Regions from separate parts of the Homo sapiens genome. Here region 1 is linked to region 2. Evidence: fine-mapped expression QTL. A gene starts in region 2. The other region holds a variant in brackets. All regions are shown on one strand. Distances are from middle to middle.

The links. PIP is the estimated chance that this variant, and not a neighbour inherited with it, causes the effect.
Region 1: its variant is fine-mapped to the expression of CAPN1 in whole blood (INTERVAL, PIP above 0.99).

The regions. Positions count from the first base shown.
Region 1 is chr11:65,143,930-65,149,298 of GRCh38, forward strand. It overlaps the pseudogene HIGD1AP10 and the pseudogene RNU2-23P. Among named protein-coding and RNA genes, the nearest start is that of SYVN1, 12 kb to the left of the region's middle. The variant C/CA (reference allele first, on the strand shown) is at 2,346.
Region 2 is chr11:65,179,810-65,185,178 of GRCh38, forward strand. CAPN1 (calpain 1) reads left to right here and starts at 2,119. Exons shown (of 22, transcript NM_005186.4): 1 at 2,119-2,204; 2 at 2,892-3,159; 3 at 3,319-3,388; 4 at 3,665-3,783. The coding sequence starts at 2,893. It overlaps CAPN1-AS1 (CAPN1 antisense RNA 1), which reads right to left and starts at 2,025. Exons shown (of 2, transcript NR_145677.1): 1 at 1,416-2,025; 2 at 62-1,263. RefSeq lists silencers at 1,438-1,887, 2,489-2,783 and enhancers at 1,806-2,595, 2,596-3,384, 3,385-4,174, 5,358-5,369.

The DNA.
Region 1 (5,369 bases), 36 kb before region 2:
TTCTCCCTCCATGAAAGAGAAAATGAGGAACTATTCTCTCTCTTCCATGGTGGAACACTCCAGGTACTCCCAGCCTGGAAGGCCAGACCCTCCAACTTTCCCTGAATGACCCCCTCACCAAGAAGTGTGCATTGAATGTGGGACTGACCACACATGAGGTCAGTTTGTTGGTCTATCTAGACTGCCTTTGGACTTCCCTTGCCTCTGATCTCATTCCTTTAATTAACAAACATTTACTGAGGGCCTACTGTGTTCAGGCCCCAGGCCAGGTTCTGAGGACATTGTGGAGAACAAAATACATTCCCTGACCTCATGGAGCTTTCAGTCTCATGGTAGAGAGATCCACAAGCTAATTGCAGGTTATTTGACTGTCTGCTGAATGAATGCATTAGTGGAAGAATGAATGAGTAAAAGCTACATTGTCCAAATTCCTGTCCTGTCAGAATTGATGTTGACGTTCTTTTTTTTTTTTTTTTTTGAGATGGTCACTTACTTTAACAACAGTACATATACCATGTTATCACCATGAAATGTAAATTCAGGTTAGACAAGAAAATTTCACAAATGTAATAACATTCTATAGTTTATAAAAGTTTGGGTATACTGTCTGGCCAAACCAGCTTGCTCATAAGTCATTAATCAATTCCATTATAGGTAATTTGATTAGTTTAATGTTTGTAATTCTTATGGAAAAAATAAGCAATGCACACATTTAAAAAGTGCTCATTGGGCTGGGCACGGTAGCTCATGCCCGTAATCCCAGCACTTTGAGTGGCTGAGGCCCAGCGGATCACGAGGTCAAGATCGAGACCATCCTGGACAACATGGCGAAACCCTGTCTTTATTAAAAATATAAAAATTAGCCAAGGATGGTGGTGTGCACCTGTAGTCCCAGCTACTCAGGAGGCTGAGACAGGAGAAGTGCTTGAACCCGGGAGATGGAGGTTGCAGTGAGCTGAGATCACACCACTGCACTCCAGCCTGGTGACAGAGCGTGACTCCGTCTCAAAAAAAATAAAATAAAAGGTGCTCATTTACCTTTGCATGAGTGCTTAAATACATATTTCTATCTCAAGATGACATTTAAAAATTATTCAGATATAACAGCAGCAAAAATATAATTCTGCAATTACAAAATAACTAAACTAGAATCCATAAGTTATTCTCATGTTCACAACTGTGATTCTTTAATAAATACCACTACTATGCAGCTATAATGTAAGCTTTCTAGATTTGGTTTAAACACACACACATAGATACTGTCAGTTGTGGGAAGCTTTACAAGTTTTATTCCATGCACTTTTTAGACAGAGTTCTGAAAGAGCCAGCCAGTCCACAAGACAGGCAGAAAAAAAGTTAAATTAACTAGGGCAAATAGGACTCTTATATAACATCCGAAACATGTGAGATCCTGCAGCAAACTGGGAGTACTTCAGGGTTGGCTTGTTATATCCTTTAGAACTTAAGTTCATCTTCACAATTGAAGAAGGTGGACATTTCAACACCATCTAGTGCATTTAGGTGACATGTTTCTTTTATGCTAACTTGATTTCCTTGAATGACCTAGTTAGTAAACTAGTCACTAGTAATTAAGTCACCAGGCAAATCAAGCCTGCAAGAAAGGAAGCCAATATTCAAAATGCTGTGTTACCATCTAAACCCACTCAAATAGTTTATTTTCCACAATAACACATAACTTCAATAATGAGATGTCTAACTAAAGCAAGCTCCTCCAACAAGACCAAGACAGCATCTCTTCTTCTAGGGCTTAGGTTTTGCCCAGAATTCTCGATACATGGAATAGCCCATACCAATAGTCATTGCTCCTACAACAAAGCCTTGGGCTGCCACACGCATGTGGATCAGATGAAGGGACATTTGCGTATTTCCCCTGCTCTTCAATTTGTATAATCCATATGTAACAAGTGCTGCAAAACCTGCTATTCCAACGGGTACCAATGGTGTCTCTTTAGCTTTACGAATAAGTTTGGATCCCTGAGCTTCGTCATATGAAGAAAGGGAAACATCTGTGTCTGTTGATATAATGACTGCTTGAAGAATCTCCCGGCTGGGCGCGGTGGCTCATTCCTGTAATCCCAGCACTTTGGGAGGCTGAAGCGGGCGGATCACGAGGTCAGGAGATCGAGACCACCCTGGCCAACATGGTGAAACCCCGTCTCCACTAAAAATACAAAAATTAGCTGGGCATGGTGGTGCCGGCCTGTAGTCCCAGCTACTTGGCAGGCTGAAGCAGGAGAATAGCTTGAACCCAGGATGTGGAGGTTGCAGTGAGCCGAGATTGCACCATTGCACTCCAGCCTGGGCGACAGAGCGAGACTCCATCT[C/CA]AAAAAAAAAAAAAGGAAGAAGAAGAAAACCTCTCACACCTGATGTCAACATTCTTTTAGTTAACATTTAACATGTTTTTCTTGAGTGCCAAGTATGTGACAGATTTAGAGCAAGGGTTTTTACAGGGCATACAATGTAACACCCTGTCTTTCCCTGACCAAGTTTAGTACCATCTGAAAAACAGACACATAGGATAGAGATAAAAATGTTACTTCTGTAACCAATAGAGTTGTTGAGAAAATGCATTTGAAGTCCCTGTACCCGTCCCAGAGCTGCACAGACTTACCCACTCTGCTCCCAAAGGTTTCTCCTTCTTTTGATGTAGGGTAGGCAAGCCCCCAAATTGGGGCTTAGCCCGGGAGGGTTCTTGGCTTTGTCCAGGAAATAATTCCAGGGTGAGCCAGTGCTGTTAGACAGACACTTTTAGTGAAGTGGCAGTGCACAGCAGCAGCAGATGTACTGTTCCTTGCACACCAGGGCTACCCCGAGTAGCAGCTCAGAGGTAGTTCTGCAGTCATATTTATACCCACTTTTAATTATATGCAAATTAAGGAGAAGATTATGCAGAAATTTCTAAAAATAAGGTGGTAACTTCTGAGTCGTTTGGTCATTAACACAGAAAGAGGCAGTAACTTCCAGGTGTTACCATGGCAATGGTAAACTGACATGGCACACTGGTGGGTGTGTCTTATGGAAAGCTGCCTCCACCCCATCCCTGTTTTAGCAAGTCCTCAATTTGGTCTGGTGTCCCAGCCCCACCTCCAGAATTGAGACCTGCCTCCTACCTCACTTTGGGTCCCATACATAGTTGCTTCTAACAACTTCACCAAGAAAACTCTCTTTTCTACTTCTTGGGAGGGGTGAGTGAGAGAAAGTGGGACAAGGCCACTTTTCTGCAGTGTTAGTTACTCCAGAAAAGGTCCACCATGTGGAAACAGATATAATGAGAAATAATCCTTAGTTTGTGTTAATCAAACCCAGTCAGTTATCCAACCAGTCAATTCCTCAATCCAAGCAGCATGAAACTGCACTCCTAGTTAGGTTTGTGGATTATAAATGCTCATAAATTCCTTATCCCGTCCCTCATGGAAAGGTGGGGTTTACTTCTCCACCCCCTTAATTCTGGACTTGGCCTATGACTTGCTTTGAACCAGTAGAATATGGTGGAAATGAAGCTGTGCCCAATTCTGGGCTTACCCTTTAAAACAGAACTGGCAGCTTCTGTTTTCTTCTCTTGGAATTCAGCCACCATGCTGTGAGGAAGCCCAAGCAGTCCTGTGGGGAGGCCCATGTAGAGGAGAATCAAAGCTCCATTCTCAGCCTTTTGGGTAAGATCAAGTGTAGTATCTGTTCTTATCAGTTTAATATCTGATATGTCCTCTATTCGAGGACACAATCTATATTAAATAGATTTTTGGAACTAAGAGATGGAATAGGAGCTTGCCCCACCCACTCCACACATTTACCTAGCATTGCAGTACCTCCAGGAACAGTGTACCCCTAAAGGGAGATAAAGTTTAAAAATGAAAAAAATAGGGAATAAAAAGCTCTAGCCCTACCATCCAATTGGCTGGGGGAATTTAAATAAATAAATAAATAAATAAATAAATAAATAAATAAATAGCTCTAGCCAGCATCAACTTGCCAGCCATTGGAGTGCACCATCTTTGAAGGGTCCTCCAGCTCCAAGGATGGAGCTGGAGGCACAAGAAGAGCTGTCTCAACCAGGCCTTGCCCAAATTGCATAATGGTAAGAAAATAAATGATTGGTATTGTCATAAGCCTCTAGGTTTGAGAGTGGCTTGTTTCACAGCCCTAATCTAATTTGACTCCCTGTTCTTGGCCCCAGACCCAGGGCCTGCCACAGAATAAGAACTCAGGGAGTGTTGAAGAAGTGAGTCAACAAATGATTGGGCTGAGCGTGGTGGCTCACGCCTGTAATCCCAGCACTTTGGGAGGCCGAGGCAGGTGGATCATCTGAGTGAGGTCAGGAGTTCAAGACCAGCCTGGCCAACAGGATGAAACCCCATATCTACTAGAAATATAAAAATTAGCCAGGTATGGTGATGCGTGCCTGTAATCCCAGCTACTCAGGAGGCTGAGGCAGAAGAATCACTTGAACCCAGGAAGTCGAGGTTGCAGTGAGCCAAGATAGCGCCACTGCACTCCAGCCTGGCTGACAGAGTTAGACTCTGTCTCAAAAAAAAAAAAAAAAAAAAAAAAAAAAAAAAAAAAAAAAAAAAAAAAAGACTGGATTGGCTAAGTGGATGATGGATGATTGAATGGTTGGATAAGTGAATTGTGTTAAGCCTGACAGGTCTAGAGTGATGAGCTGTGGCAGAATCAGGGGCTCAGAGTCCAGTAGCTTCAAGGAGGATGAGAAGCCATCTCTGCTGGAATTGTTATAAATAATTTCCTGGGAAGGGTCCCTGGCAGATCTACTTGGAGTGGCATTGTCACAGGCAGTGCATACTCAGCTGCTCAGGTGAGACACTAACTGCAAGCCCAGAATCTGGAAAGCTCCACAGTGCAGTGGGCCCAGCCTTACTATCCCTGCTGGAACCACACCAGCAGAAGGAGTGCCCGAGGGCTGCTACCTGTCTCCCTCGACTCCACTTAGTTCCAAATGTAAGTCTCACATGATTGAAACTGTGGAAGGAGGCTGGGTGCGGTTGCTCTCACCTATAATCCCTGCACTTTGGGAGGCCAAGGGGGCGGATCACCTGAAGTCGGGAGTTCAAGACCAGCCTGACCAACATGAAGAAACCCCATCTTTACTAAAAATAAAAAACTAGCCAGGCATGGTGGCACATGCCTGTAATCCCAGCTACTTGGGGGGCTGAGGCAGGAGAATCACTTGAACCCAGGAGACAGAGATTGCAGTGAGCCGAGATCACACCACTGCACCCCAGCCTGGGGAGCAAGAGTGAAACTCAGTCTTTTAAAAAAAAAAAAAAAACCAGAAGGAATATATGTAACTCAAGTTTTGTGTGGTTTTTTTTTTTTTTTTTTTTTTTTTTTTT
Region 2 (5,369 bases):
CCTGGGTGATGGAGCGGGACTCCATCTCAAAAACAAAAACAAACACCAGAAAACAAACAAATGTTTTGTCCATTTTTATTGGATTTTTATTCAATTGTAAAAGTTCTTTATACAAGTCCTACATCAGATAGAATTTTTACAAATATTCGTCCTAGTCTATGGCTTATCTTTTCATTTTTAATAGTTTCGTGCATTTTGAGAAACAAAAGCGTTTTATTTTGATGAAGTTCAATTTATTGATTTCTTCTATCATTTACACTTTTTGTGTCATATTTAAGAAATCTGGCCAGGTGCCAAAGCTCACACCTGTAATCCCAGCACTTTGGGAGGCTCAGGCAGGAGGACTGCTTGAGCCCAGGAGTTCATGACCAGCCTGAGTAACACAGCAGGACCCCATTTCTACAAAAAATTTAAAAATTAGCTGTGTGTCGTGGCACGTGCCTGTAGTCTCAGCTACTCAGGAGGCTGAGGTGAGAGGATCTCTTGAGCCCAGGAGTTTAAAGTTACAGTGAGCTGTGATCAGGGCACTGCACTCCTGCCTGGTCAATGAAAGCAAGACCCTGCCTTTAGAAAAGAAAAAAGAAATCTTTTCAAACCCAATATTGTTAAGATTGTCTCCATTTTTAAAAAAAAAAGTTTTATGGTTTGGCCATTTATATTTAGGTGTGTAATCCAGTTTGAGTTAAATTTTGATGGTGTATCCTAAATAGTTATCAAATCCATCTACTTCTGCCTGCCACCTCTCTAGTTTAAACCACCCTTCTCTGTCCCTGGACACCTGCGCAGAAAGCCTAGGAGCTGGTTCCACCCATCACTCACCAGGTTAGGTATTTCAGGCAAGTCACACCCTCTCAGGCCTCAGTTTTCCTCTTTTGTTAACTGAGGGTGAAAGTGGGGTTAGATTAGATCAGCGGCTCTTAACTTTTGAGGGGTCGTGGGCCCTAGAGTCCTGGGAACGCTATGCAGTTTCCTCAGCAAAATGCTTGCATCCACAACATGCAAGACTGCAGCAGCTGCTGGGCTGGGGCTGCGAGACCAGCGAAAAGCCCTGACTTGGGGGGGTCTCGGGAGTCTCTGCAGTCTCCCCACCCACACCCCCGGCCTCCGCGCCGAATCCTGGCCCCCCAACTTCTTGCAGCCCGTGAAGCAGGATCTCAGGGTCCTGGGGGTGGGGAGAGGGGGCTGCCGTCCTGCTCGCAGCCTCTGCCGCCCTCTCCTGGGTAAGGTGACACATGGGCGCTTCCAGGTGGGTGGGCTGAGAGCCTGGGGGAGAGAACAGGGATGTCCACCTCTCTAAGTTTCCAGGTTCAAGAAACCCCAGAACGTTAGAGAAAGATGGGCTCCCACAATTGCCCAACCCCATCCCATAGGATGCACGCATGCGGAAAGTCGGGCCGAACGGGGCAGGGACTTACCCAAGGTCACGCAGCGAGCCCGGTCCCCCTGCGTTCCCCGGGGAGCGCTGAGCCGGGACGCGGCGGTGGGGTGGGGAAGGGGAGTGGCGCGGCCCTGCGGGGTGAGGCTGCCGTTTGCTGAGTGTCCGGCAGGGGTCTGCTCGCTGCCAGCCCGGCCCCTCCTCAGAGCAGCTGCCGCAGCCCGAGGTAATCTCGGCCCCGCGCCGGGGCTGGCTGGGAACGGCGGGAGCAGCTGCGGTCGCGCGGAGCGAGGGGAGCTGGGGACCGGGCGGGCCCGGGGCTGCGGGAGGCGGCGCCGCCGCACAATCGCCCCGGAATGCCCGCCAGGGCGCGCGTGGGGTGCGGCCGTCCGGCCCTGCAACTCGAGCTGCTGCCCCTGGTTAAAAATACCCCCTGCCCGGCCCTCCCCCTCCGTTCCCCGCGGTGCCCTTCCGCCGCGCCCCAGCCCCCCCATCCCCCCCCGCGCTGGCCCCTCCCCGGGGACTGCTCTGCCTTTTACTAATTTGTCCTCTCGCGGAATTGGCCCCCGGCCTGCGGAGGGAGGGGCGGGGAGACACCGTGAGTAAGAGATAGTCAGAGACCGTGCCGGAGAGATAAGGGAGAGCCGAGAGGAAGCGGGGTAGGAGCCCCAGGAGGAGGAGGAGGAGAAGGAGAGAGGGAGGGCGGAGGGCGGAGGGGCGGCGGGAGGAGGGCGGGGAGGAGCGCTCTTCCTGGTTGGGCCCTGCCCTGAGCTGCCACCGGGAAGCCAGCCTCAGGGACTGCAGCGACCCCCAAACACCCCTCCCCCAGGTAAGAAGCTGGGTAGCCGAGCCGGGATTCCTTGACCCTGGCCACTGCTCCTGGGCTGAGGGGCTGCCCCAGCACGGTCCCTTCTCGGGGGCCTCTGCGTTCCTGGAGCAGGGGTGGGGGCTGGCGGAGCGGCACAGCCCAGGCGCCTGTCCCAGCCTGGCTCACCGCTGTCCCCAGGGGCTGGGCTAGGGCCCACCAGCTCTGATATCGAGCCTGCTGCGGGGGCCTGAGGAGGGGGACCCCGACCGTCTGGGGTTTTCAGCCCACGGCAAGGGGCCGGTGCACCAGGAGCTTGGTTAGTTTGGGGAGGGGGTTGCAGGCCTGTGAACAGGATCAAAGAGGCCTTCCCTGCTGTGTCCCACCTGCCCAGTTCCTTGTGCTGTCTGGAGGCTCCGCCCTGCCCCACCTGACCTGCTGGCTCACTACAGAGCTGCAAGCCCCTGACAATGGGATCCGGGAAAGGAGAGGTGGCCGGCACGCCTGGGAACTGGGAAATCCCTTTCCTGGATTCACTGGGAGCACCGGGAGGTGGCTGAGAACCCTACTTCTGTGAGGGGAGCAGTGAGGCAGGGAAACCCTAGGTTTGGGGATGGATAAGCAGGGGCAGGAGAGCAGAGCTTGCAGGCAGGAGCCCAGGTTCTAGTCTTGGGAAGGCCTGGGTTCTGAGCAGGCCCATCTGTCCGGCAGGATGTCGGAGGAGATCATCACGCCGGTGTACTGCACTGGGGTGTCAGCCCAAGTGCAGAAGCAGCGGGCCAGGGAGCTGGGCCTGGGCCGCCATGAGAATGCCATCAAGTACCTGGGCCAGGATTATGAGCAGCTGCGGGTGCGATGCCTGCAGAGTGGGACCCTCTTCCGTGATGAGGCCTTCCCCCCGGTACCCCAGAGCCTGGGTTACAAGGACCTGGGTCCCAATTCCTCCAAGACCTATGGCATCAAGTGGAAGCGTCCCACGGTGAGAGGGGCCATCCTGGGTGGGACTCGGCTAAGCCAGATCCTGGATGAGGAGTAGGGATGGGACTCCATGTCCCTGGTGGGGAATGGGGTCTGGGGTGGCCTGGTGCCAATTTCTGGGAGGGGCTGGCCGAGGAACAGGACTCTGGGTCTCTCGTAGGAACTGCTGTCAAACCCCCAGTTCATTGTGGATGGAGCTACCCGCACAGACATCTGCCAGGGAGCACTGGGTAGGCCCCCAGGGCGTCGGGTCCCGGGTATTTTTTCCACAGTAGTTCCCCATTCCCGCTCCTTCAGGCTCTGCCCCAACCCCTCCCTCTTGCAAGCCCAGGCAGGATCTGGCTATCAGCGCTGGGGCTGGTTTGCCCAGATTCCTGGGTCTTTTCTGCAAGCTGAGGGGAGTTAAGTGGCACCCTGGCCAAGGAACCCCAGATTCTCCCTAGCACCCGCTTCCCCCCCCGGGGCAGGTTGGTAGAGCAGGCTAATGTGCATCCCTCCTGCCCCAGGGGACTGCTGGCTCTTGGCGGCCATCGCCTCCCTCACTCTCAACGACACCCTCCTGCACCGAGTGGTTCCGCACGGCCAGAGCTTCCAGAATGGCTATGCCGGCATCTTCCATTTCCAGGTGAGGGCTCCCCTGGGGAGGAGGGGCAGCAGGCACTGGGGGAGATGCGGAAGGATGACCCACAATACCTGCAGTTAGGGCCACACCCTGTGGGGCCAGCCCTCCCTCTAGCAGGTATTTGACCTCTCAGTGCCATCTCGGGTCTGTCATGTGTGAAGTGACTGGGCTGGGCAGGTATTTCGGCTGGCAGTTTTCCTAGGTGGTTGTATGTATCAGGTGGAAAGTGCTTGAAAGAACAGAAAGACTTTTGTGTTATATCCTGTGGGACAAATTCCACTCCTCCCGGAGGTCGGTCTCAGTTGCCCCATCTGAGAAAGGAGTGTTCGCTGGGGAAAACAGATCAGCACGTGTGGCCTTCTCCACGTGTCAAGCCTCCTATCCCCCAACTCCTCCTGCGCTTTGGCAAGGTCTGACTGAGCCCAGCAGAAAAGAAAGACTCGGGATTAAGTCTACGTAAACCAGCTTTTCCTGACGGTGTGCCCAGGGCCCATTTTTCAAGTCACACCAATCAATTCTCAATGAGCTGCCTTTGGGAGGGACATGCCCAGCAACCCTGGATGAGACTCTCCAGCCTTGGAGGCCCCAGCCCTGCCCGAAGGACTCTTGGGTGTTCCCTCCTTCTGCCTGGTTAGAGAGCCCCTTACCCTACTCTGTCCTTGCCCGCCTTGCGCGGGTGGAGGTGGCCCTCGGAACCCAGGGTGCGGAACCCACAGTGCGGATCCACTTTGGCCCAGCGCCACACCCACCTGCTCCAGTCTGCAGGGGCGCAGTCTCGCCCCCTTCCCTCGCTCCTCCAATCCGCTCCTCCCTGGCCTCCGATTGGCCAGTTCAGTACCCGCCACCCACACTCTCCGCAACCTGGGCTCCTAGGGCCGCCTCCACCCCGCCCCGCCCCCCGTTGTCCTGGCCCCGACCCCTCAGATGGTACCTCGAGTCCTTGGTCGCTTCTGACCCCAGACGCCTTCGGCCCCGACCCTGCCCTGGGAAACGTGGCCTTTGTGGCATCTCAGAAACAAAGCCCGTGATTGTGAGAACCAGTCCTGCCCATCTTGTGGTTGTAGGATCTGGATGCCACATTTTCACTGCTCATCCAATGACACAGGTGCCCCTAACCCCCTTGAATAGGGAGGGAAGAGCCAGGGGGCCATGGCCTAAAAGGGGGCTAGTTCCGGAAAGCCCAGGCCCCAGAGCTTTTCCACCTCTCCGTGCCTGAGGAGGAACCCTGTTTGTTCAGTGACTCCCTAAAGGCTTTGCCTGTGCTCTTGTTTAAGTCTTCCGTGAAGAAGGCACCGCTGCTCCTTTTTATGGATAGGGAAACTGAGGCTCAGAGGCGATAACTTTTCCAGGATCATGTAGCTAGTATGTCTCGAGCATACATGTACATATCAAGTATACACATGTCTATATGTGGTATGCATGTATTAGTATACAGCAAATATGCAGGTATCTAGTATACATTGTACAGGCAAAGGAAAGCATCCCCTTAGCCCTCTGAAGGTTCACTGAAAAATCAACTCACAAAAGGAGGTTAGTAGGAGAAATGGCATACAAATTGATTAGCCTGCAGCGTGGGGTCGGGAACCACA